Linked DNA regions of Homo sapiens: all the other regions are linked to region 1. Evidence: fine-mapped expression QTL. A gene starts in region 1. Each other region holds a variant in brackets. All regions are shown on one strand. Distances are between the middles of the regions.

Region 1 (5,108 bases):
TTACGATGTTAAAATTTTGAACTAGTAATGCATGTACTCGGTACAAAGTACGCAAGCTATACAGAGAAAAGGAAGTGTCCCACTTTCAATCCTATCCTTAACCACCCAGGTTCCCACAGGCAACCTTTATAATCAATTTTTGTGCATCATTCCAGATGAGATGCTCTTCTAATACTTGCGTGTATCTCAAGCATAGCAAAAGCTCATATTCAGAACTAACACTGAAAAAAGCTACCTCAAAAAGATTATAGCCTTTGGCCATTATAAATTGAAGTTTTATAATAATAAACGAGAACCAAGTGGCTAGAACCTCAGTATCTCCTTGAAATGTGCTTTCTCTGCATTCCATTCATTGCATTTCAGTCTTACGAACTTTCTAGTAGTACATCTCATAGGTCTCACTACTATATTCCATTCTATAGCAACATCTTTTCTTACGAGAATATCTGAGTTTGTAAAAAACTAGTGACTTAGAAAATAAAGGTGGATGCTGAAATGCCAACTTCTGGAAAAAGCCAAGTTCTCCTGTAGCTGAACTACTTACATTTAAAAAGTAACTGGATTTCTACTAAGATTTAACACTGTATTATCCCAATTATTGGGTTTTCTGCTTAAAACCAATCAAAATCTGATTTTTTTTCTCCCTCGTTAGACTGTGGCATTTCTGATAATATCTTTTGGCAATAAATAAACGTCTCATTTGGTGTTGATATGTTAATTCCAGAAGTTTTGTACCTTAGAATCCAGTAGGCAACCAGTACGTGATTCTGTTACATAACAAACGAGGCAAAATCTCTCTTAGAATCACAGATGATTTCATATTTCTACTTTCTAAGCCCAGTGGTTCCCAAACACCAGTAACTAACTTGCCAACTTCATGGGTTTTTTTTTTCCCATATTCACAGAGTACATTAACTTTTTGCTACAGTTAATTTTTTTAACTCGACTTTTTAAAATCAAAAAAGTATTGTAAAAGAAAATTTTGTATCACTACCTTAAACCATGGCTGTACATATATAAATACAGATTGCAAAAACATCCTATTACAAAAAAATCCTCATCCACGTACCGCCTAGAGTCAAGTCACATGCCACTAGCGGAAAGTGTACCAATTTTGGGACACAATGATTCCAGCCCAACTTTCTCATTTTCTGTATTAGAACACTGGAACCCAGAAAGCCTCGGAAGTCACCGAAACAACTTGAGTCAAACTGACTGTGGTTGCAAATGTTTATGTACTTTTCAAAAACAAACATACAAACAAACAAAAACAAACCAAAAAAAACCCTCCAGTTGTTTATTACCTACTGCGTGGACCTAGTTCACACAGATGGGCCACTCTGCACACCCTGTTTCAGTTCTTTTTCAAAGAAACTATATTTAAAAAGTCACTGCAAACTTTTAAAACTATATATTAATGAACTTTAAAATAAGGTTATGAACCCACAGAAAAGTTTCAATACCAGAAGAGAGGAGAGCGAAGACTAAACTTTGCAATTCTGAAAGGAGGCAGCTCTATCAGACAGGAAGGGAGAGAACACAATTTCCTTTTGGAAAAAATGGCAAAACCAATATACAAGCCTTTGAAACCAAAAGATAGAAGGTCCCCCAAGCAATTTAATTGCATGGGAAAAGACTACTAAGTATAACTAAATCGTCCTAATTTTCCTAAGGGTTTTTCTTTTGGGCTCTCATTAGCCAACGGAATTGAGGCAGAAAAAATGTTTTTCACGCAGGGAGACAAAACATTTGTGATCATCTTAAGTCTCTCGGTGGATGAGAGGCCTGAATACAAATGGTTCTATATTTGGGCAGAAGGGCCAGAAACCTTTTTTTTTTTTTTCCCCTTTAATGTTCTCCAATGAAAACATGTCACTTTTGAAAGGGTGCTCTTCCCTCGAGAATGCCCTTTGCTTCTAACTTTGTGGGAGGTAGACAGGGGTGTTCTTTTACGATAGTAATAGTAGCACACGTCCTGCAGAGGAAGGTCAGAAGCTCGGCGGAACAGGAACCGCAGCTTTCCTCCGGCTTCCCAGCTCCTGGAAGGAAACCCGAGAGCAACTGCCTGCAGCCACATCTGCGAGCAGGGATGCTCACAGACGGACAGGGTGGCCCGCAGCCACCCGCGATGCCACAACCTGGGCTTCCAACAAGGCCCTTCTTTTCCAAAATGTACTTGCCACAAAACAACACAAAAACCTCCTTTTAAACAAGGCAGGTTTAAGGTCAGCCTGTAAGGTGTCAGGGCCTTGGCAGGGAAGGATGAGTGAAGACCTGCAAAGCCCGGCGTTCACGCTCACGGGACTCCCGCTGCTTCCCAAACCCCTATTTTCCAGTCGGAAAAGTCCGGGTTAATACACAAAAGGAGACGCCGAACCACACAAGGTGAAGAGGTTCGCCCAAAAACACCTGCAGAAGACGCTCCTCTCCCTCGCTCTCCTCGGGGACTCAAGGTCCCGGGGAGGAGGAAAGACCAGGGTTGAAGGCAAGAGGCCCGGGGACGGGACTCGGGTCAGGGAGACACTACCGGGGGGGCCGGGGCCACCGCGGGTCCCTGTTGGCCGGAGGGTCTCGGCGGCGGCGATAGGCCTGGCAGCCAGCTCGGGCGGCAGGTCGCGGGTCGGGAAGACGTCAACACTCACCCCTGGGCCCACAGGAGGGTCCCGGCGAGGACCCCCGCCCTCTGGCTCCCGGGGCGCTCGAGTGGGCGCTCTCAGAGGTGGTTGGCTGAGAGCACGGAGGCGCCCAGGGACAGCACCGGCGGAGCGGCCCGCAGAGGGCCAGGGCAGAAGCGCGAAAGGCGCGGGCTGGCCCCTTCTGGGAGCCGTAGCGGAAGAGTGTTCGTGGTCATGTGACGCGGAAAAGGGCGGACGCGTGGCCCACGCACTGGAACGGCTCCACGGTAAGCGATGCGCAGACATCTTTGTTGTGGGCGAAACGAGGTGACCGCAGGTGACTCCTCTTGCGGTTAAGTTTAATTCACACTTCGGCTTTATTAGATTTTGTAATCTTTAAGAACTTGGTGTTTGCAAGGTAAACCTTTGGTAGCCAATTAAAACAACTTTTTCAGGACCATCTGGCATGAAAATTTCTATGCTGTGAGGCTTAGGAATTCTCATATGTAAATCAGCTCCGCCAGTGATTCCATGAGTTCCAATTTGATACTTCTTAAGCCCTCGGTTGATCAGACCTTGTCTTCCATGAGAATTCCGGGAGAGGGGAAGTTAAGTTTCACAGTAGTTGGCGGCATCGTTTAGCTTTGGGAGAGCACTCTCTGCTTCTGAACACCCAACCACAGACTCTTCCCCCCAGGAAGCCCTTGCTTAGAGCGGGGGAAAAATGGTACAGTGCTTGTCAGTATGGGAATGTACTGAGGCCAAATAATGTGATATTTTATATGCCTTGGTTTTCACAAACACCTAAAGGTGTACACATGACTTATGTACTCCCCTACGATCTAATTGATATTCTAGAGATGTTACCATTCTTCAAAATGATTTGGGAAGCCCTCTGAATTGCGTTCTTGGGCTTCTTAACACTGGTGTAGGGAAAGTGAAAATATTTCCTCTCCCCTCTTGGGGTCTTGGCTGGGCCTAAGAATTAAACTGATGAGGAAAAGAGTCAAACTCTAAAATATTTGAAGAGATTTATTCTGAGCCAAATGTGAGTGACCATGGCCCGTGACAGAGCCCTCAGGAGGTCCTGAGAACATGTGTCCAAGGTGGTTGGGGCGCAGCTTGGTTTTATGTATTTTAGGGAGGCATGAGACATCAATCAAATAAATTTAAGAACTACATTGGTTTGGTTCAGAAAGGTGGGACAACTCAAAGCAGGGGCTTCCAAGGCTGTAGGTAAATTTAAACATTTTCTGGTTGACAGTTGAAGACCTGGGACCCATAGAAAGGAAATGTTGAGGTTAAAATAAAAGATTGTGGAGACCAAGGTTCTTTTGAAGTCTTATAGTGGCTGCCCTTAGAGACAATGGATGACAAATGTTTCCTATTCAGATCTTTAAAAGGTGCTAGATTCTTACGTAATCTCTTTAGGATTGGGAGGACCTGGAAGAAAATGATCTAGCTATGTTAATAGAAATTCTATGTAGATGCAGATTTTCCCCCAACAAAGGACAGCTTTGCAGAGCCGTTTCAAGATATGTCAAAAACTAAAAAAAATGTTTTGCGGTAAAATATTTTGATTTTGTTTCTTGTCTCGTTATGCCAGTGTCAGATTGGAAAGTAAGTCACAATATATAGGGTTAAATAAAACCCATCTGATGAGAATTTATGGATTGTAGGGCATGAATCCCTAGGCCCCTTAGATAGGAATTTGAGCAAGATTAAAAAAAAAATCAGAGCTTAGTCTCCACTGACGTAAAATAGAGACATAAAACATAACAGGAGGAAAGCATACAAATTTTATTTAGTAATTTTTACATTTACATTGGAGCCTTCCCTAGAAAAATGGAGACCCAAATTAACAGTTGGACCCTAAGTGCTTTTGAGTCTCCATTTTTCTAGGGAAGGCTAAAAAGAGTAGTAAATTGTGAAAATGTGAGAAAACAAACAGATTTGGGTTAGTGCAGTTAATGCAGAAGTGACTAAGAAGATAAAGGTTGTTGTAACAAAGTGGAAATGAAAATCGGTAAGTTTGTGCAGATACAGCTCAGCTTTGACTCCATGTCTCTGGTGTTGAGAACATCTCCCTTCCTCCTTATACAGGGAGGGCACCTTTCATACGGAAGTTTTATCTCCTGCTTTCAGGAAGGAAAAAGGAAAGCCACAGTGCTCTTTTTGCATTTTTTTTTTAAGTGCCTTTGACTCGAAAATAATCTTTATGCCAAAGTGCCATATTTTGGGTTGGCATATCCTACTATTGACAGAGCAGAAGCACTGCCATTTTAAAGTGCCCCTTGATCAAAAACCACCTAAATCCAACCCAGAGGGCATCAGCCTAATGGCTGTCAGCATGACCACAAACCACAAATGACACCTCCGACCAGAAACATTCTAACTCTAAGATAAACCCCTCTCCCACCAGACACATGCCAGCCCCAAGATAACCTTCCCTCTGACCGAGCGATGTCAGCCCCAAGATAACCTTCCCTCTGA
Region 2 (5,108 bases), 47 kb before region 1:
GAGGCAGGAGTTGCAGAGAGCCGAGATTGTGCCACTGCACTCCAGCCTAGGTGACAGAGTGAGACTCTGTCTCAAAATTTTTTTTTTTTTTTTGTAGATAGGGTCTCACTATATTGCCCAGGTTGGGGTCAAACTCCTGGGTTCAAGCAAGCCTCCTGTCTTGGCCTCCCGAAGTGCCAGAATTACAGGCATGAGCCACCATGCCTGGCTGCAAAATATAGTTTTGATATTTGTAATGAGCTATGACTTTGTGTGTTACTCTCATGTTCAAGTTCTTAGAGGACTCCCAAAAGTCTGAATTTCATCACAGGATTTTTAATGGTCTGAAGTTTTTCCACACTTCATTTGTAAAATCATGTAACTTCTCAAACTAAATACAATTAGGGGGCTCTGTAAGAAAAAATCAACAATATTACTTTCCTTTTTAAAAACAAAAGACTAGCAAGACTTTTAATTTTACAAAAACTCAGGCATTCAAATATGCTTAGGAAATGAAGAGAAAGTGTGTTCTCATAATTACTCATTTTGGCAGGAGATTATCTGGAAAATTTATATATAATTCATACACACACACACACACACACCATTCACAGTTTTAGTGTCTGTCTAAAGAGCCCCTCCAATTTCCGGAGCTCTGAATGGGAAAGCGGTTGAAACCGCAGCGAGTTGTCAAATCACCAGTAACAGCATTACAAAGATGTGTTAATACGCCTTGAAGTCGGTGGGGTGGTGACTTATACACTGTAAGTAATTGTCCCTTTATAAAACCCCTTTGTAAGTGAATCATGAAAGGAAATATTTAGTAACTCTGAAATAAACTTATCTTCAAGAAAGTTACCAGAGTTCAGTTTGCATCAACAAGGAAAATAGAACAATTTATCCATTTAAGTTGTAATGTCAATCCACTTTTTTTTTTTTTTTTTTTTTTTTAGACAGGGTCTCACTTTGTCATCTAGGCTGGAGTACACTTGCACTTTCTTTTAAAAGAATCATTAATTTTCTAAATCTGTAGCTGGCAAACTGTAAATATTCAGCCAATATTTTCGGTTTATAAACCAGCCTCTTCCACATATTTTTTTTTTTTTTTTTTTGAGACGGAGTCTCGCTCTGTCACCAGGCTGGAGTGCAGTGGCGCGATCTCGGCTCACTGCAACCTCTGCCTCCCGCGTTCAAGCGAGTCCTCTGCCTCAGGCTCCCTGGTAGCTGGGACTACAGGCACGTGCCACCAAGCCCGGCTAATTTTTTGTATTTTAGTAGAGATGGGGTTTCACCATGTTGGCCAGGATGGTCTCGATCTCCTGATCTCGTGATCCGCCCACCTTGGCTTCCTGAAGTGCTGGGATTACAGACGTGAGCCACCGCGCCCGGCCTCTTCCACACAATTTAACTCTACTCTTGGTGCACAAAAGTAGCCATAGACAATATGTAAATACATGGATGTGACTGTGTTCCAATAAAACTTTATTTACAAGAAAGAGGTGGTGGGCCATAGTTTGCCAGTTCCCGTTCTAAATGATTTGTCCTGTAAGCTCAAAAGGCAGTACAGCTTATGTGTACAATAAAAGATGTTTAGTGCACGAATACTGATACCTATTTGGGAGCTAAAATTTCTTTTCCCTTTTCTTCTGGGCTTTCAGCTATGCGCCAAGGTGGCTAGGCAGCCATATACACATGTGGCCTCTAAATAAGGAGGGTGGTGGTGTTCAAGGCAATGTGTAAGCAAAGCTTGATAATAATACAAAGTGACATGGAGGCAGTACATCATCAGATGGAGTGAGGTTTGTTAGGAAAGCTGCCTTGTAAAGAGGCATAAACTTTAAACCCGTGCTAAAAGAATAAAGGCAGATGTGGCCTTGGATAAATGAATCAGAGTGGGAGTAACTGGAAGGACAATGAGATGGGCAAGGGTGAAGGCAGCAGGGAAGATGAGAATGAACAAACTCTAGGTAGGAATAGGGGAGAATTGTAAGACTTGAGTCAGTGTGGAATAGGGATTAAGAGTCCCGGCTGAGCACAGAGGCTCACCTGTAATCTCAA[T/C]GCTTTAGGAGGCCGAGGCGATCACTTGAGCCCAGGAGTTCGAGACCAGCCTGGGCAACATGGCAAAATCCCCGTCTCTACAAAAAAATGCCCCCCAGAATAAATTAAAACTAACAGGGCGTGATGGCATGCATCTGTAGTCCCAACGACTCGGGAGGCTGAGGTGGGAGGATCACTTGAGCCCTGGGTGTTGAGGCTGCAGTGAACCGTGATCATGCCACCGCACTTCAGCCTGGGTGACAGAGTGAGACCCTGTCTCAAAAAAACAAAACAAAACAAAAAACTATGTGGGCTCTGCACCCCAAATGACTAGCTTTTTTTGTTGTTGTTGTTTGTTTTTTTGAGATAGAGTCTCGCTCTGTCGCCAGGCCGGAGTGCAGTCACATGATCTCAGCTAACTGCAACCTCTGTCTCCCAGGTTCAAGTAATTCTGCCTCAGCTTCCTGAGTAGCTGGGGCTACAGGTGTGCACCACCTCGCCCAGCTAATTTTTGTATTTTTAGTAGAGACGGGGTTTCCTCATGTTGGCCAGGCTGGTCTCGATCTCCTGACCTCGTGATCCACCCACCTCGGCCTCCTAAAGTGCTGGGATTACAGACATGAGCCACCGCGCCCAGCCAAATGACTAGTTTTGAATCCCAACCCTTCTACCAAGAAAGTAGAAGGACAATTTGAGTAATTTGTCCTTTCTATGCCTCAGTTTTCTCATTGGTAAAATGGGAATAATAATAGCACCTACCTCATAGGATTATTATGAGGATGGAATAAACTAAGGCGTGTAAAGTGCCTGTAACAGAGTCTGGCATTCGCCAGAGCTCGGGAAAATGTTAGAGAATGAGAGTAGAAGGAGAGAGAAAAACCACTCAAGGGCAGCTGTGCTGAGATGGCAAAAAAACCTACGCCTAAAATTTCTCAAGCGGAAGGAAATAATTACATTCCACCCTTCAATGATACAAAACTCCTTCCAGTAAGAATTTCTAGTCGTAGCTGCTGCCTAGATATACTAAAAATTGAAACCCAAGTCCTGAGAATATGGTGTTCTTTCTTACAGCTTTCCTTGGCAACGTGTATTTCCCTGAAGGCAGAATGCGATCTATAGATTTCTGAGCATCAATATATAAAGTGAGATCATTACATATCATGGATATAGGAAGAGAAAGGAGAACGTGGAACCAAAAATAATTCTCAAATATAAGTTTGGGGAAACCAGCAAGATAGCCGGGATCCTGGGAAAAGAAAGGCTAGTGGGAGTGGGTGGTGACAGAATGATTTGTTCCCAACTGCCAGGCAAACAAAACCATCAATTTCTTTTCTGCAGGTTTGCCAGAATAATCCATACAATTTCTGGGAAATCGGGCCAGGCGTAATGGCTCACATCTTTAGTTTTCTTGGCAGGAGGTTTTCTTGAGGCCAGGAGTTCAGGACCAGTCTGGGCAACAGAGTGAGATCTTGCTTCTACAAAAATATTTTTAAAATTAGCCAGGTGTGGTGGTCTACACCTGTGGTCCTAGCTACTCAGGAGGCTAAGGCAGGAGGATTATTTGAGCCCAGGAGTTCAAGGCTACAGTGAGCTATGCTCGTATCACTGCACTCTGGCCTGGGTAAGAGAGTGAGACCCCTACTCTTTAAACAAACAAACAACAGAGTTTGGATGATGCAGCCAATTCTTTCAGAAACATTTCTTCCAAAAATAATGTATAAATAAGTCATCCTAATCTATTTAAAATCCAATTCTCTGCAGATGACTCAGAGTGAACTAAGAATGTAGATAGAAGACTTCAAAACTCCTGTCTTGAATTCCCCTGTTCCCGCCGCCACTTTTAATCTTTCTGGTTGAAACTGGGATGACAAGGTTCACAAAACCACGGATATTGCCAAATTCCCTTTTTGTTCTTTGAGCCTTGATTTCCCACAACTGGTGGTAAACGGAAGGTGAAGATTACTATTTTTTCTTCTGATGAGAAGTTATAATACTCATCTTTCCTGTTGATGTCATTTCCAGGCCATTCCAGCAACAACAATGTCCTTGACAGCAAGAAAAAGAGCGTGCTGCAACAACAGAACTGGAGTAAGTATGAAGCAGTCGGCGTGGAAGCAGAAGTGCATGAACAGTTATTGCTACCTAAGCAAAGCCACACTGAGTCACTCGCATCTACCGAATCACAGTGGGGCTCCACTGACAGAGCCACAGCCTTAGAAACATGCTATTTTTATTTATTTATTTAGAGACAGGGTCTTGCTCTGTTGCTGAGACTGGAGTGCAGTGGTGCGATCTCGGTTCACTGAAACTTCTGCCTCCCGGGATCAAGCAATTCTCCTGCCTCAGCCTCCTGAATAGCTGGGACTACAGGTGCACACCATCACGCCCAGCTAATTTTTGTATTTTTAGTAGAGATGGGGGTTTCAACATGTTGGTCAGGCTGGTCTCAAACTCCTGACCTCGAGTGATCTGCTCGCCTCGGCCTCCCAAAGTGCTGGGATTACAGGTTTGAGCCACTGCGCCTGGCCTGAAACATGCTATTTAGGATGATTATATAGAAGTAGAAAAAGTGAGACGGGTTTTTTTGTCCCACAAACATTTAGAGTTGGCCTTCTGTCCCTTCCTCAGTCTTCCGTGGATTGTCCTTTCCTCAATCTAAAGGTTTTCAAAGAAAGGAGATTGGTAAGTCACGCCCACAGCTGCAATCAATTTCATAATACTCGGGTGTGATATTTTTGTGGCGTATATAAAATACTCAGGGAAAATGTACTCAGTTCTCTCATGCAATGACAGACTGGTTTGCTAGGATTAGAATGACAATTGCCTTTATCCAGTTAAATTAAAGGAGCTGCCAGGTTTTTTTCCCCCAAAACATTTAATGCCTACCCACTATGTATAAAGTCGTAACGAAGTTAAAAGTAAATTAAGATTCATTAACCGGAGTGTCACTCTGCTCAGAACACTTTCAGAGATGCTGTTTCATTTAATTCTCTCAAAACCCTTAAGTGGGAAAAAGTAAGAAGTGTGTTTGATTGACGAAGGAATGGACGCTCAGAGAAAGTAAATAATTTGCCAGTGTAGCACACTAGTAA
Region 3 (5,108 bases), 170 kb before region 1:
GACTTTAAGCCGGCAGGGGCCCCAGGTTATAGATTATCCAGCTCCAGAATAACTACCTGGCCTGAGGCCCCTAACACAAACCTCTGCCTGAATCTATGCCACATACTACTAATACAGGTCCATTCCAGTCCAATCTTTGTAGGTGTCACTGTGATCCATCTAGCCTCCAATCCCTTTTTTTCTTCCTTTTTTTTTTTTTTGAGACAGAGTCTCACTCTGTCACCCAGGCTGGAGTACAGTGGTGCCATCTTGGCTCACTACAACCTCTGCCTGCTGGGTTCAAGTGATTCTTGTGCCTTGGCCTCCAGAGTAGTTGGGATTACAGGCACACGCCACCACGCCCAGCAAATTTTTGTATTTTTAGTAGAGATGGGGTTTTGCCATGTTGCCCAAGCTAGACTCGAACTCCTGGCCTCAAGTGATCTGCCTGCCTCAGCCTCCCAAAGTGCTGGGATTACAAACATGAGGCATGGTGCCCAGCCAAGCCTCCAATCCTTTATAAGCAATACAAAGTTTTAAAGCCCATTTTAACCACTCGATGTGTGGATATTACCTGGATCCTCATTCAAACAAACCATTAAGAAAAAAAAAAGAAAAGTAAGATACTGATGAACAACAGAAAACTTAAAACACTGACCAGATGACTAGATTACTGTTAATTGTCATAGGGACAAAAATAGCACTGTTGCCATATATATTTTAAAGTCCTTGAAATTTACAGATAACATGAGAGTTGAGTTTACAGATGAAATTTTATGTCTCGCATTTGCTTAAAAATAATAAAAAGACAGCCATGTGTTGATGGAAGTTTGTTACATTATCTACTTGTCTAAAGGCATGAATAACTCCACAAAAAAACTCTTTAAAAAAGAAACAAAAGCATCTAATGATTTATATTGTTTTAATTCGAGTCAAGTAAGATTTTTTAGAAGATAACACACAATGGCAAGAAAAAAACAAGCTAAGAGATTACAGGAAGCTAGAATGGTAAGGCAAACAGCTAGAAAGAAATACACTGTAACCTGGAATATGTAATGTAAAAAAAGTTAAGTAAACTCTCAGAGTAGTTACAAACAACATCTAGCTTCTTCTATAAATCTCTGGGTTTTCTGTCATTCAAAAAGACCCACGGATTATGATATGTTCAACACAAAGACATGTCTACATTTTCTACATTTTTGTTAGTGTATTTCTCTGAAAGCCAACAGTTAACATCAAATAATATACTCTAAATATTTTCAACTTTACTAAGTTACTACTGACTAGATTCAGCTAATATTTAGAAGAGCCATAGCACCATACCTTCCTTTCAAAATGCTTAAAAGGCCAGACGTGCATAAATATGCAGACACTAAATAAATATCCCTTAAATAATAACAATAGTGTGCTTTAATATTTTAATTGGATGGTTTTAAACCTGAGATATCCCTCTAGGAAGCTATTCCCTCAAATAATTAATTTTGTAGTTTAAAATGTTTTTCAATGTATTATTAGTGAATGTTTTCATTTATTAATACCATCATACTGACTGAAATTCTGCAAAAATTTATCTCCACCCTAAATTCAATTCAAAGCATGCCATGTTCCTATGTGATACTTATTTTCTGTGTTTAGGAATCAACTGGAAAAGTATCTTTGCCCATAAAAGCACGATCTTGGGCAAGTTACCAAACCTGGGGAAAAAAATTTTTTTTTAATTTTAAAAAATAAAATAAAACCATGATCTTACATCTATATAATACATCAATTTTCAAAATGTTTTCCTATATACTACCTTCAAATCAACCTCATGAAATAGGCAAAACAGATATTTCCCACAGATTACAAAGGAAAATGAAGGTCAGGGAAAAGTGGTTTCCCCAAGGTAACAAGGTTCATAAATTAGTGGTAATCAAACTAAACCACGGATTTTTTTGAGTCCTAGCAAATTAGCCAGGCATGGTGGTACATGCCTGTAATCCCAGCTACTTGGGAGGCTGAGGCAGGAGAATCACTTGAATCTGGGAGGTGGAGGTTGCAGTGAGCCAAGATTGCACCACTGCACTCCAGCCTAGGCGACAGAGTAAGACTCCGTCCCCAAAAAAAAAAAAAAAAAAAAAAAAAACAAAACAAGAAAGAAACTCATTTGGCTATATATGCTTGTGCATTTTCACTGCTTTAGGTATAATTAAGACGTATGCAAGATTATGCCACAGAGATGTCTATAATGTCTTGAGGGCAGTAAGACCAATACAGAAG[A/G]AACTAAGAGCAATAACAAAAAAAATTTTTTTTTGTAAATCTTACAGTGAATGTTATTTTTTAAACAGTTTAAAATACATATGGGGGTGTTAGTATCTGAGGTATAAAAACTCCTGAAAGACTGATGGGATTAGAAGAGAAAAGTCAAGCAAAAATAAAAGCCAGCATTGGTAAAATGGCAAGAAAATTAGAATACAGATAGCACATGTGGAAAACAAAACAAAGATCATTGTAGTTAAAACATTTCTGCTGGCAATAACGTCATTACATTAAGAAGTCAGGTCATAAAAAGATTTACATTGCAAGCTGAAACGTTAAGAGTTCTATACATCTTCAATCTGCAGACCAAACTGGGTCATCACTAGCCTGTTTTTATACTGCCTTAATCTAAAGATGGTTTTTACACTAAAGAATTGTGTGTGTGGGGTGGGGGGGGAAGAGGGGGTGAATTTCAAACAAGGATATGCAACAGAGAATACAGGTGGCCCACAAAGCCTACAATATTTACTATCTGGCCACTACAAGCAGTTTGCCAACCCCTGCCATAGGCAACAGAATAGCTGTAAATCCTGAATTAATGAGTATATAACTTAACTCTGCCACTCTACATGGCAATATGTTGTTACTAAAATAACTATCAATTTTCATTATTATTAAACTCAGCAGAAAATCGAAGTTAAAATGCTCCAAGAGTTTAAATACATAACCCGAATATTAATGTAAATGACATGACAGTATGCTATGAAAACTGAAAAATCCCCCTACAGAAACCATCCAAACCAGGAATGAAAATAAAAATTGATAATTCTTCTTATAACTTCTACCACTTTAGATTCAGATTCAATAAATAAATACTATCTGACAAGAAATACGCTGGGAATTTTCACAAGTTGGCCTAATTCAAAAAATCCTAGCATTTTTATACATAGGTATTATAGTTACTACCAATAGAAATTAAGGCTAAAAAGCTTCTTGCCCAAGGTTCACAACCTGCATAGTCCAAATCTGAGCTTTCAGCACAAGACCACTGTACTTTTATTATGTCTCCTGCATGTAGAAGACTGCAAGGGGAGGACAGGAATCATCTCCCTTTTTGTATCCCTAGGACCTAAGGACAGTTCCTGGCACACAGCAGGCTATTTTATTTATTTTTTTTTTTTGAGACGGAGTCTCGCTCTATCGCCCAAGCTGGAGTGCAGTGGCGCAATCTCGGCTCACTGCAAGCTCCACCACCCAGGTTCACGCCATTCTCCCACAGTAGGTAATTTATTAATAAATCTCTGCTTCAAAAATGAATCAATCATGAATGTTAACAAGGGAAAAGTGTACGTTATTGCATGGGTTTTCAAAGCAATCATTTTGTTTTGTTTTTAATCCAGTATAGAGATAATCAAATACTGGCATGCAATGCCTGATTTTACTCCTACACATAGACCATGCCTGTGGAGCATTAATAATAATGTCTTCTTTTTTTTTCTTTTTTTTTTTTTTGAGACAGTCTCACTCTGTTGCCCAGGCTGAAGTGCAGTGGCACAATCTCACTGTAACCTCCACCTCCCAGGTTCAAGCGATTCTCCCACCTCAGTCTCCCAAGTACCTGGGATTACAGGCACACACCACCATGCCTGGCTAATTTTTTTTTTTAATATATATATATTTTTAGTAGAGACAGAGTTTCGCCACGTTGGCCAGGCTGGTCTTGAACTCCTGGCCTCAACTGATCCATTCGCCTCAGCCTCCCAAACAGCTGGGATTACAAGCATGAGCCACTGCACTTGGCCAGTAGTAATGCTTTTACTTTTAGTCTTCAAACATATTAGGAAGGTTAACTTACAACTAGAAAACATAAACTATACATATTTCAAAATAAAATTATTTCTAAATTTTCTTCTCCATTGAATTATCTACTTACAGCAGTGTTCACCAGTCCACCTTCCGTTAACTTTATAATCAGAAGTTAATCCAACTTCCTTTAACTAGAAAACCATAATTTGCCCATGACATCACAAATGAGGACATACAGAAAATCACTATAGATTTTTTTTTTTTTTTTTTTGAGACAGTATCTCGCTTGGTCACCGAGGCTGGTGTGCAGTTGCATGATCATGACTTACTGCAGCCTTGAACTCCAGGGCTCAAGCAATGCTCCCACCTCAGCCTCCTGGGTAGCCGGGACTACAGATGTGTACCACCACGCCTGGCTAATTTTTAAATTTTTGGAGAGATGGGATCTCGCTTTGTTGCCTAGGTTGATCTCGAATTCCTGGCCTCAAGGGATCCTCCCACCTCCACCTCCCAAAGTGCTGGGATTACAGGGGAGCTACAGTGCCAAGATCACTACAGGTTTTTTTTTAAAGTAACTGTATGATACAAAAGAAATACATGGAAACTTTTTGTGAAATATTCTGGTTCTGAAAAAAATGACAAAAATTACTTCAGCAAATAAATACAAAGTGCTCCAATGCGAAATATTTTACTAGCATCTGGCATATTATGTGCTGTAACTTAATGATATACATATCTCCTCCACCAAACACACTGTAGAAGTCTATAAACACTAAAGTAATAGTCAAGAAATTTGTAAACCACATCTGTAGAAACTAATGATCTACTCTGTAAGTATGGTCTCTATGCATATCTATAAATAGTAATAACATTATTTGCTTACCACAGCTACCAATACAGATATACTTTATTGATGACTAAAATACAATTCGTATTGCCATCAGTTGTGTGATTGTATCCATGCCCTTTGCCCTGTAACTTGGTAGCCCCTCTCACTCTGATTCTGGGCTTGGAGCATGACTTTCTTTGGCAATAGGATGTTCAACTACAATGCAAGTATTAAGACAGAATTAAATTATATATGC
Region 4 (5,108 bases), 53 kb after region 1:
AATATAAAAATTCGCCTGGCATGGTGGCAGGTGCCTGCAATCCCAGCTACTTGGGAGGATGAGACAGGAGAGTAACTTGAATTTGGGAGGCGGAGGTTGCAGTGAGCCAAGATTGCGCCATTGCTCTCCAGCCTGGGCGACAGAGCAAGATTCCATCTCAGACAAAAAAAAAAAAAGCAGCTCCAAAGTAAGGTGCAGATAAACATAAATATTTATTTGTTTATTTAATATATAGAGAAAGTCATAAAATAAGATTTACATACATGTGTGGACAGAAATGATGCATACATTTATAACATATAATGTAAGGTTGTGCACTCAAAAAGTTTTACTGATGAGGGAAGACACTACAAAATGATTTAGAGGTTTACTGGGTCTTACCCTTTAAAGTGATTTTTAAAATTTATTTATTTATTTATTTATTTATTTATTTATTTTTGAGACAGTATCTCAATCTGTTGCCCAGGCTGGAGTGCAGTAGCACGATCTTGGCTCACTGCAACCTCCACCTTCCAGGTTCAAGCGATTCTCCTACCTCAGCCTTCCAAGTAGCTGGGACTGTGGGTATGTGCCACCATGCTCAGCTAATTTTTGTATTTTTAGTAGAGATGGGGGTTCGCTATGTTGACCCGGCTGGTCTTGAACTCCTGACCTCAAGTGATCTGCCCACCTTGGCCTCCCAAAGTGCTGAGATTACAGGTGTGAGTCACTGTGCCCAGCCTAAGGTGATTTTAGAAGTAAAACATGACCATGTTGGCATTATTTGCTCAAAACTATCAGTAGCATGCTATTCTGACCTTCAGCCACACTCCTGAATCCAGAACTACGGCCAGTATATGTATATCCCAAAAGTTACCTGGACTTTTAAACTATTATCAGACCATTTTCCTTCATTTGTCTTAGATATTTTAAAGTTTTATTTGTAACCTGCCTATGGAGTTATGGATCAAAATCAACAAATTTGTGGCTGCGCACAGTGGCTCACGCCTGTAATCCTAGCACTTTGGGAGGCTGAAGCAAGGATTGTTTGGGGTTGGGAGTAGGAGACCAGCCTGGACAACACAGCAACATCCTGTCTCTACAAAAAATAAAAATAAAATATATATTAGCTGGTCGTGGTGACACGTGCCTGTAGCCCCAGCTACTCAGGAGACCAGGCAGGAGGATCTATTAAGCCCAGAAGTTTGAGGATGCAGTAAACTATAATTATGCCACTGCACTCCAGCCTGGGCAACACAGTGAGACCCTGTCTCTAGAAAACCACAAAAAACAAATTTGCAATAACGCTTAGGATCTATTCATTTCATATATATATATGTATGTATGTAATAGATATAGAATATTCTAGGAAATTTCAGTTGAATTGCCCAGTAATGGAGAAAAAATGAGTTTTCTCTAACATACCCTACATATTCTTTCCTGGTATCTGTGAGTTGACATATTCTATTCGTTAGAAGCAAGTTTCTATATTTTCCTTAGTCTTGGAGAAGCTTCGTTAGCTCTAGAAACCATCAACCCACTCCATCGGAAAACAGGACTGGAAAGAAAACTAACCAACCGGCTTCTCCGGGTGGTCCGGGGGCTCCAGGAACTCCTTGCGTGCCCTGGAGACCAGGTTCTCCTTGGGGTCCGTAGCCAGGTGGTCCAGCTGGTCCTGCAGGTCCTGGGGACCCAGGGGAGCCAGGATCCCCTGGAGGACCTTGGTCCCCTTTCTCACCACTCAGAGCCTGTGACAACAGGAATGTGTTTGAATCGTGCTTCATTCCAGTATATTCTTACAACAGGTTAATCATCCTCCAAATATGAATACCAGTTAGGCTGTCATTGAGATCTTGAATTAAAAGCATTTGGCATTTGATGAGAATTATTACTAAAGTAAGAGCACTGCAGGTTTCTTCCGTTTTGTGTCCTTTGGAGTTTAGCAACATTTTTTGAACTTGGAACTGTCTTGAGTCCCACTTGAGATATCTTACAATGATGGGTCTCCCATATGGTAATAGCCACTAAAACTATGTTCAAATTGACCAATAGTTCAAATGACTTTAGTGGTGATATTCATGATAATGTTACATTTCTGAAATAAAATGAGCACAGCAAACCTTTATTTCTGGTTTCACCAGGTATTTTCATGACAAAGGGGATTTCCCACTTCCATTTTCTCTCATAAACTGTCTAGTTTTTAAATCTTCATATGCTATAACCTTGAAAATGATTTGTAGATTTAAAAGAAATTGAATTTGACAAAATAATTTAAGCCCTCTTCCTTCCCAACATGGCCCTCTGAAATAAATTTGACTCAATTTTTCATTGTTCAATATCATCAGATGGCTAAGTGGTCTGTCTCCTTTTTTAATGACAGGGTGTAAGACTCAACAAATCACCACCTTGATTTTTCTCTCATTTACTTTATGGAGCATCTTTACCAGAACTTATAAAGAAAAATCAGTGAGATGCAAGTAGGGACATCATACAAATTCTCTTAATATTAGACCATCAGAATTCTGGCACTGTCACTTTATAAGCATAACTACCACAAAGTGAACAACCTGGGACTTGGCCAAGGCAGGGTCTGAGAACTGCTGGCACCATAGATGCTGCCAGCCAAAAAGGGTTTTGTAGTCAGAAGCATTTAGGAAAGACCAGATAGCTTATCTTCATGTGGAAGACTCACAGTTCATATTCTGATATTAAAGGGTCTGTAAATGAATCTTTAAATTTGTTTACCAAGTTTCTCCAAACCTCTTTGAGGTAAGATCTGTTTTATTGGCTAACACAGATTAGCCCTGGGAGAAACTGGTATTTCATAGAATAGTTTGGGCAGCATCCCTTGCAAACCTCTTGTAAATACATTATGATGACAGGTGCTCACCCTCTCACTCTGTGACATTTTAAAATAAATCTTAGG[T/G]CTGGGTGCAGTAGCTCACACCTGTAATCCCAGCACTTTGGGAGGCTAAGGTGGGTGGATCACCTGAGGTCAGGAGTTCGAGACCAGCCTGGCCAACATGGTGAAACCCCGTCTCTACTGAAAATACAAAATTAGCTGGGTGTGGTGGCACATGCCTGTAATCCCAGCTACTCAGGAGGCTGAGGTGGGAGAATCACTTGAACCCAGGAGATGGAGGTTGCAGTGAGCTGAGATTGCACCATTGCACTCCAGCCTGGGCAACAAGAGCAAAACTCCCTCTCAAAAAAAAAAAAAAAAAAAAAAAAAAAATCTTGGTAGGTATTACCTCAATTAAATATGTGAGAAACTCTCTCATGAAAAGGGATTAAATTTCCATAAAATTAAATGAATGACAAAACATTTAATCTCTTTATTTGACTACCATACCCCTAAATATGCTGTCTTCTTATGCATTTATTTTTATTTAAAAATATGGACATCGCCCCAAAATATTTACTAAACTTTCTACTATACATCATTTTCTGAACTTTTCCATAGACTCATTTGATACAAATATGGAACTGTAATTTGTGTATGAGATGGGGTCATTATCAATGTAGAATTTTGATTGGTTGAAATCACTGAATGCTACCTATTTATTCTGTCAAAATACTATAACTATTTGCTTGGGTTATTCCTGCTAATTTGAAGATGTTTCATTCTGCAGTTAGAGTGATGAACTGTGCTGAGCGGCCAACCATTTTTGGAAAAGAAATCACTTTATCTCTTAACTTCAGAGTACTTCATTTATAGGGAGGGTAAAGTTGCTAAATACCAACCAGTTCGCCTTTAGGTCCTGGTAATCCTTTCACTCCCGGAGTTCCAGGAATTCCATCCAAGCCCTTTCTCCCAGGTTGGCCTCTGAGCCCCGGGTCACCTGGGACACCCACTTGCCCCTCAGGCTGAAGTGTTTCACCTTTTTCTCCTTTAAGTCCTGGGTCACCCTGGGCACCTGGGAAACCCTAGGGTAGTACACAAATGAATCTGTATTGTATTTTGTTAGAATTCTTCTTCTGTCAATCTTAAAAACAGTGTGGACAAGAACTTTTCAATTTTAACATGAATTTTTTCAACACACTCTTTGGTCCACAACTATTATTACAAGCATTTTGTTTGTTTTGCTTTGTTGTTAACTTCCAAAACTGAAAAATAATTCAGTTAGATAGTATAATTCAAAGCAATACAGACAATAATATAATTTAATACCATAGAACAATCACCATAATACAGGTTATGTTTGAATATTGGTAAATTTTAACAAGCCTCTTTGAATAGTTTGATCTAAGTATATTTATCTATAACTTTTTGATTCACTATGACAGTCAAGATTCTAATTTTTAACGGACTTATTGAGGTATAATTTACATACCATAAAATTTCTCCTTTATAAGAGTACAATTCAATGATTTTTAGTAAATTTATAGAATTATGCCACAATCACCACAATCACGTTCAAACATCTCCATCACTCTCCCAAATTCCCTCAAACCTATTTGCAATGAACCTCTGTTCCCACTCTCAGCCCTAGGCAACCACTAATCTGCTTTCTGTTTCTGATACCATTTCAAACTGTTTATAAATTCATTGACTCATTCACTTAATCAGTCACAGATTTATTCATTTAATCAACAGGTATCTATTAAGTGCCTACTGTTTGCAAGGCACCAAACTGGTAAGTGTGTTGCAACCATATTTCTAGAGTGTGCAATTTGTCAAATTGAAGCTAAAGATTTAAAAACATGAAATCTTACTGGAAATCCTGGAAGACCTGTATTTCCTGGGGACCCTGGGCTTCCTTTCAAGCCAGCTGCGCCTTGTCTTCCTGCAAATCAACGAATTATTAACTAACTCCTCATTGAACGCCAACTCTAAGTAGACAGGGTAATACAATGTATGAAGAAAATAGAGTGTTTCCTTGTGGGGAAAGAAAGACAACTTCTATCATAAAACATAAATGCAATAAGAGAATGGGAGTAAATAACAGAACAAGAGATCATGTAAAAAGTAACTCAGATCTTAGCTTCTTAAAATTTTATCTTCATAATTTTAAGAATATATCTTTATTTTTTCTGAGTATATATTACTTTTAAAAGTAATATATGCTCATTATAAGAAAATTATGCAGAAAGAAGAGACTAAAAATCACCTATAAATCTACCAGAAG
Region 5 (5,108 bases), 31 kb before region 1:
AAGGGCTTCCGCACTTCTCTCTCAGTATTCCTGCTTTTATTTCATTTTTTGACCTTTGTGGAATCCTTTTCATGTCTGTTTATCAAAAGATACTAACCTTATCCATCATTTTTCTTCATTTTTGTGATTTCAATTTGGAGGATAACCACAGAAATTACCTTCTGGTATACATAAATCTAGAATTAATATAGTTGCATCATTACCAAAAGTCAGAAAACTTCTAAGTACAGAGAAGAATCTTTGTCTTGATATTATTTTAGAGGGATAAGAAGCAAGAACGGAAATGCTAAATCTAACTCTATCCAAGGAATTTCCTCAACTGCCTTTCCCCAAACTCCCTGCCTTGGAAGAAAGATACCAAAGATGTGTGGAGAATGTTGCACCTAACTGAATTCTACCCATTTCTGAACCGAAAATGGGGAAATATAAGTTTTGAGAGCTAAAACTGTCTAGCACTTGGCTTCACTTGGTTTAATTCTTTTGAGATTTACTTTTAAATTTTTAGTTTTTTTTTGAGACGGAGTTTGGCTCTGTCACTCAGGCTGGAGTACAGTGGCATGATCTCAGCTTACTGCAACCTCTGCCTTCTGGGTTCAAGTGATTCTTCTGCCTCAGCCTCCTGAGTAGCTGGGATTACAGCTATTGCCACCATGCCTGCCACCACACCTGGCTAATTTTTGTATTTTTGGTAGAGATGGGGTTTCACTGTATTGGCCAGGCTGGTCTCGAACTCCTGACTTCAAGTGATCCACCCGCCTAGGCCTCCCAAAGTATTAGGATTACGGGCGTGAGCCACCACACCCAGCCTTGAGATTTAAATTCACCTATATATAATTAGCAAATAAATACTGCCATGAAAAAAGTATATACAACTCTGGCTGGGCGCAGTGGCTGTAATCCCAGCACTTTGGGAGGCTGAGGCAGGCAGACCACCTGAGGTCAGGAGTTCGAGACCAGCCTGGCCAACATGGCGAAACCCTGTATCTACTAAAAATACAAAAATTAGTTGGGTGTGGTGGCCAGCGCCTGTAATCCCAGCTACTCTGGAGGCTGAGGCAGAAGGATCACTTGAACCTGGGAGGTGGAGGTTGCAGTGAGCTGAGATCATGCCACGGGACTCCAGCATCAGCAACAGAGCGAGACTCCATCTCAAAAAAAAAAAAGTATACACAACTCAAGGTATTTAAACCTGAACCACTTTATAGATATTATAAATTAGAAAACCACCTACAATGCAACCAACAGCCACCACCACCAGGATGAAGGTCTGAAAGGAAGCACAGCAGGTTCTTGCTACCTACCAGGTCATTAATTGTATTACTTGCTCTGAGACGGGAAGACTCATAAGGTAATATGATACAAAATGTAGCTGATTGCACAAATGATGAAATAAAATCCTTCAACAGACAAATACTTCTTTGGTTGACAGTTTATTAAATACACTACATTTGTACCTTATTCTGTCGTTTTTTAAATTGTTCACGCATGAACTGAGTAAAAACGTACTTTATAGAAAACCAAGTGCAAAACTAAAATGAAAGAATGCACATATTGCACACATATGAAACTGCTGCAATGTTAGAAATTAATCTGTACAAGTACCTAATGAAGAAGGTTATGAAATATTAGGTGGTTCGAGTTTCTTAAATCTGGCACCAGACCATGACTTTGAAAGTGTTAATGTTGAAGTGTCGATGCAAAAATGTCTATTAACAAAACTGCTTAACACTGTTTGAGAAACAGGACAAAATAATTGTTTTTCTTTCACAGACACTTTTCTGAATCAATTCTCTACAGACTCTCTCCCATTCAGAATCAGTTGGGTGGACTGATGAGGCAAAAAATAAATTCCTTTTAAAAAACAAAACTGGAGCCTATTTACAAAACATGCAAAGGGAGAATTTTAAGCAGGTGTTACTGCAGAACTGCTCAGACGTGAATACAGCTGAGTGACAGAATATACCTTTACTTCTACAAATATAGGTCCTTCCTCCAGACTTTCTGGAAGAAATACATTTTCAGGGTGTGGACTATAAAATGGCATACAATGCAGAGACAGAAACAAAGAAGTTTGCAAATCTTTTATATTTCCAGCTGTTGAGACAGTATTTTTGAGGGCTGATGTTACCTCTAGCGGCGAAACCAGAGCCAGCTATTAAGCAGCCAGAAAGCTACAGTAATTGAATACATGACCATTTCTCTTTTAGCACGTTCTTTGTTCTCCTCTTCCAGAAGTTGTAGACGTCTATTTAGTTTGATTATCTAAGTGAAAAACAAACACACAAAAAATATAATATAGAGGCTTTAATGAATAGGGCAATCAGATTCTTATAAAGTAAGTAGTATAATAATTTGTCAACAAAAGTATTATTACAAACATGGAAAGTTTCATTTGGAGCAAAATAAACACAACTACACATAGAAAAACATGTCATTCATGACAGCTTAAATTCACTTAAACATCCTTTCCCTTTCCCTTCTTCAGATTTCTGAGTTAGGAAGGGTGTATTTCCTTCCTAACTTGATTACATAGTGAGGTGAGGAAGCGGTTACCTACTGTTATTCTGGCAGAAAAGACTCAGTATGCATTTTGGCAGGCTTACCACAGCAGAAAGAATACGGGACTCCTTCCCCTTTCTATGCCTCTCCTATGAACTTGTCACTCAACCTCAGTTGTTCATCT[T/G]GAACCTGGCATAACCGCCTTCTCTGTCCACCTCTGAGTTACTGAGACAATCCAATAAAATAATCTACTGTAGGGGGCCTTGGGATATGGCACCCAAACCCTTCAGGCCTGAAGGCTAATTCCCCAGCTGCTGGAAATGCTGCTGGCTGACAGTACCATCCTTGCTGTTAGCCCTTACTGTGAAAATCCCAGGGCTGAACAACCACCTGCTAAAGCTTGTGTTCTCCTACTGATCTTCACCTAAAAATATCTTATTTAATCCAATTTCCCTCTATATCTATTTGGTATAGACGCAATGAGAAAACCAACTATGCCTTCTTCACATGTGTGTATGTCTGTGTGATACTCGAGGCTGTGGGAGTACATATTAAAAAATATGCATGTGCAACTGCAGTTCTAAGAAAGGATTTATTACAGAATACAGGAAATACGTATGCAGGGATGCTGTGCAAGCTGCAAGGAGCGGTTTCCAAAATGGAGTTATTAAACACAGTAACAAAGGTTCCAAAGTAATTGTTCCACATTTCAAAAGCCAAACAAGCAACTGATGGCTGTACTGGTTTGCTAAAGATTCTTTGTTACTGGCCAGAATTACATTAATCTATCTTGGTAATACTGTTTTACGGTGATCAAAACATGTAAATGGTAGTTTAATATATCTTTAATCAAAATGAGAAAATCAATGATGGCTTACTAGTTTGATAGTCCCACAGGAGAGAAAATAATAAAATGTTGAGAACTATCACTTTAAAATATTGTATGAATATAACTGAGAAATATATCTTATTTGGTACACTAAATACCTGTCGTCTTAGTGAAGCTGCATCTACAACAGTCAGGTCATCTGACGTTCCTTCAATGGTTGTATCTATATTTGAAATGCCATACCTGCAGATAAGAGATAGAAATACAAATGAATAGTAAAGTAGAACTCAGAGTAAATGGCACGCCACATCATGCTTTGTGTAATGCTCAAAGTAGTATTCAGAAAATTGGTACTTAATAATATGAATTACTAAAATATTTTACTACCTGAATTTGTACTAATAAAGGAAAGAAAAAAGCTTAAAATGACAACTGTCTACAATATTGAAAAAGGGCACTAAAAACTGGAGAATGGGAAAAAAATCCTGACTAAAGAAACACATAGAAAATTCTCAAGCCAGAAGGATTGGCGATGCTAAAAAGGGTCCCTGGCTGAAAAGGTTTGAGAGCTGCCACTTAGGATAGAACAAAATATAATTCTTACACAAACTTATGTCCATATGTAAGCCCATAGGCACAGACTCACTAGCAGGGAACACAAAGTAGACTAACTCTAAAAAAAGAAAGACTCATCACCTCTTCTCACTGCCTCTTGTCTTGCCATTTTTATTCTTTACTTCTTGTCTTTTTATTTTTTTGAGACAGAGTTTCACTTTTGTTGCCCAGGCTGGAGTGCAATGGCACAATCTCGGCTCATTGCAACCTCCACCTCTGGGGTTCAAGTGATTCTCCTACCTCAGCCTCCCAAGTAGCTGGAATTACAGGCACCTGCCACCATGCCCGGCTAATTTTTGTACTTTTAGTAGAGATGGGGTTTCACCATTTTGGCCAGGCTGGTCTCAAAGTCCTGACCTCAGGTGATCCACCCACCTCAGCCTCCTAAATTGCTGGGATTACAGGCCTGAGCAACCACGCCTGGCCTATTCTTTACTTATTTCCAATTACTTATGCTCTACTGTGTTCTCCCGCAGAAACAATTATAAAATCTCCTGAATACATCTTACCACTACATTTAGCTCCAGAATTGGCCCAATAATGAATAAAATGCTGTGTATAAAATAATACTGAAAAACCATTAAGACAAAATCCAGAGAAAGCATATTAAAAAAGTACTTTTTGTTCCAATGTAGTTACTTCTAAAGCGGCACTAATTTCTAGGTGAATGACACTAAACCTCTGAAAAACAAAGACAAACGCCATTCCTCTTCTTTGCCTGGATTTCCACATTTTAAAATTTAGTTTAATTAATAGCTTCATTGAGATACAACTTATATAACCACATAATTCACCTCACATGTATTTTATACCCTAAATGGTTATTTTAGTAAAATGGCATAGTAAATTTTCTAAATGAGCAGAATATAAATAAACTAAATTAAAAGTTATTCCTGTGTAGTCCAGAGAATTGGCAAATGGATCATCTATTCTAATACCTATCCCAGCAAGTCCCCACTACAAAAAGTACATACCCACAAAAAGGGATATGAAGCAGAATTATACTTTTCATCCAGACATGTTAAAGACAAGTCTACTCAGAAAATCCTTTTGTTTTAAATATTGTTAAAAGTAATAAAAATACTTTAATAAAGTATGCAAAAAACCTTAAACAATAGATGGTGTGTACTGACTCTAGATAATCTACAACCATCTCCAAATATTC

Which allele goes with the higher level. Positions count from the first base shown, and alleles are read on the strand shown. Sizes are in standard deviations (SD) of each study's normalised expression. Not every link is listed here.
For the expression in sun-exposed skin of the gene that starts at base 2,819 in region 1, G is the low allele of the variant in region 4 and T is the other (small effect, 0.17 SD a copy in GTEx).

What was found. PIP is the estimated chance that this variant, and not a neighbour inherited with it, causes the effect.
Region 2: its variant is fine-mapped to the expression of MFF in whole blood (TOPMed, PIP 0.97).
Region 3: its variant is fine-mapped to the expression of MFF in whole blood (INTERVAL, PIP 0.97).
Region 4: its variant is fine-mapped to the expression of MFF in sun-exposed skin (GTEx, PIP 0.99). The same link has a PIP of 0.9 or more in anterior cingulate cortex.
Region 5: its variant is fine-mapped to the expression of MFF in whole blood (TOPMed, PIP above 0.99). The same link has a PIP of 0.9 or more in spleen and thyroid.

What each region holds. Positions count from the first base shown.
Region 1 is chr2:227,322,962-227,328,069 of GRCh38, reverse strand. MFF (mitochondrial fission factor) reads right to left here and starts at 2,819. Exons shown (of 9, transcript NM_001277062.2): 1 at 2,643-2,819. It overlaps MFF-DT (MFF divergent transcript), which reads left to right and starts at 2,906. Exons shown (of 14, transcript NR_102371.1): 1 at 2,906-2,952. RefSeq lists a silencer at 2,478-2,767 and an enhancer at 2,948-2,997.
Region 2 is chr2:227,369,911-227,375,018 of GRCh38, reverse strand. It overlaps TM4SF20 (transmembrane 4 L six family member 20), which reads left to right. Exons shown (of 4, transcript NM_024795.4): 2 at 4,039-4,104. Among named protein-coding and RNA genes, the nearest start is that of TM4SF20, 6.8 kb to the left of the region's middle. RefSeq lists an enhancer at 3,246-4,445. The variant T/C (reference allele first, on the strand shown) is at 2,038.
Region 3 is chr2:227,494,732-227,499,839 of GRCh38, reverse strand. All of the region lies in intron 2 of AGFG1 (ArfGAP with FG repeats 1), which reads right to left. Among named protein-coding and RNA genes, the nearest start is that of AGFG1, 25 kb to the right of the region's middle. The variant A/G (reference allele first, on the strand shown) is at 2,239.
Region 4 is chr2:227,269,568-227,274,675 of GRCh38, reverse strand. COL4A3 (collagen type IV alpha 3 chain) reads right to left here. Exons shown (of 52, transcript NM_000091.5): 24 at 4,696-4,766; 25 at 3,724-3,906; 26 at 1,559-1,727. The region is part of intron 4 of MFF-DT (MFF divergent transcript); the gene reads left to right. Among named protein-coding and RNA genes, the nearest start is that of MFF-DT, 53 kb to the left of the region's middle. The variant T/G (reference allele first, on the strand shown) is at 2,906.
Region 5 is chr2:227,354,140-227,359,247 of GRCh38, reverse strand. MFF (mitochondrial fission factor) reads right to left here. Exons shown (of 9, transcript NM_001277062.2): 8 at 3,487-3,571; 9 at 1,415-2,262. The coding sequence ends at 2,131. Among named protein-coding and RNA genes, the nearest start is that of TM4SF20, 23 kb to the left of the region's middle. The variant T/G (reference allele first, on the strand shown) is at 2,684.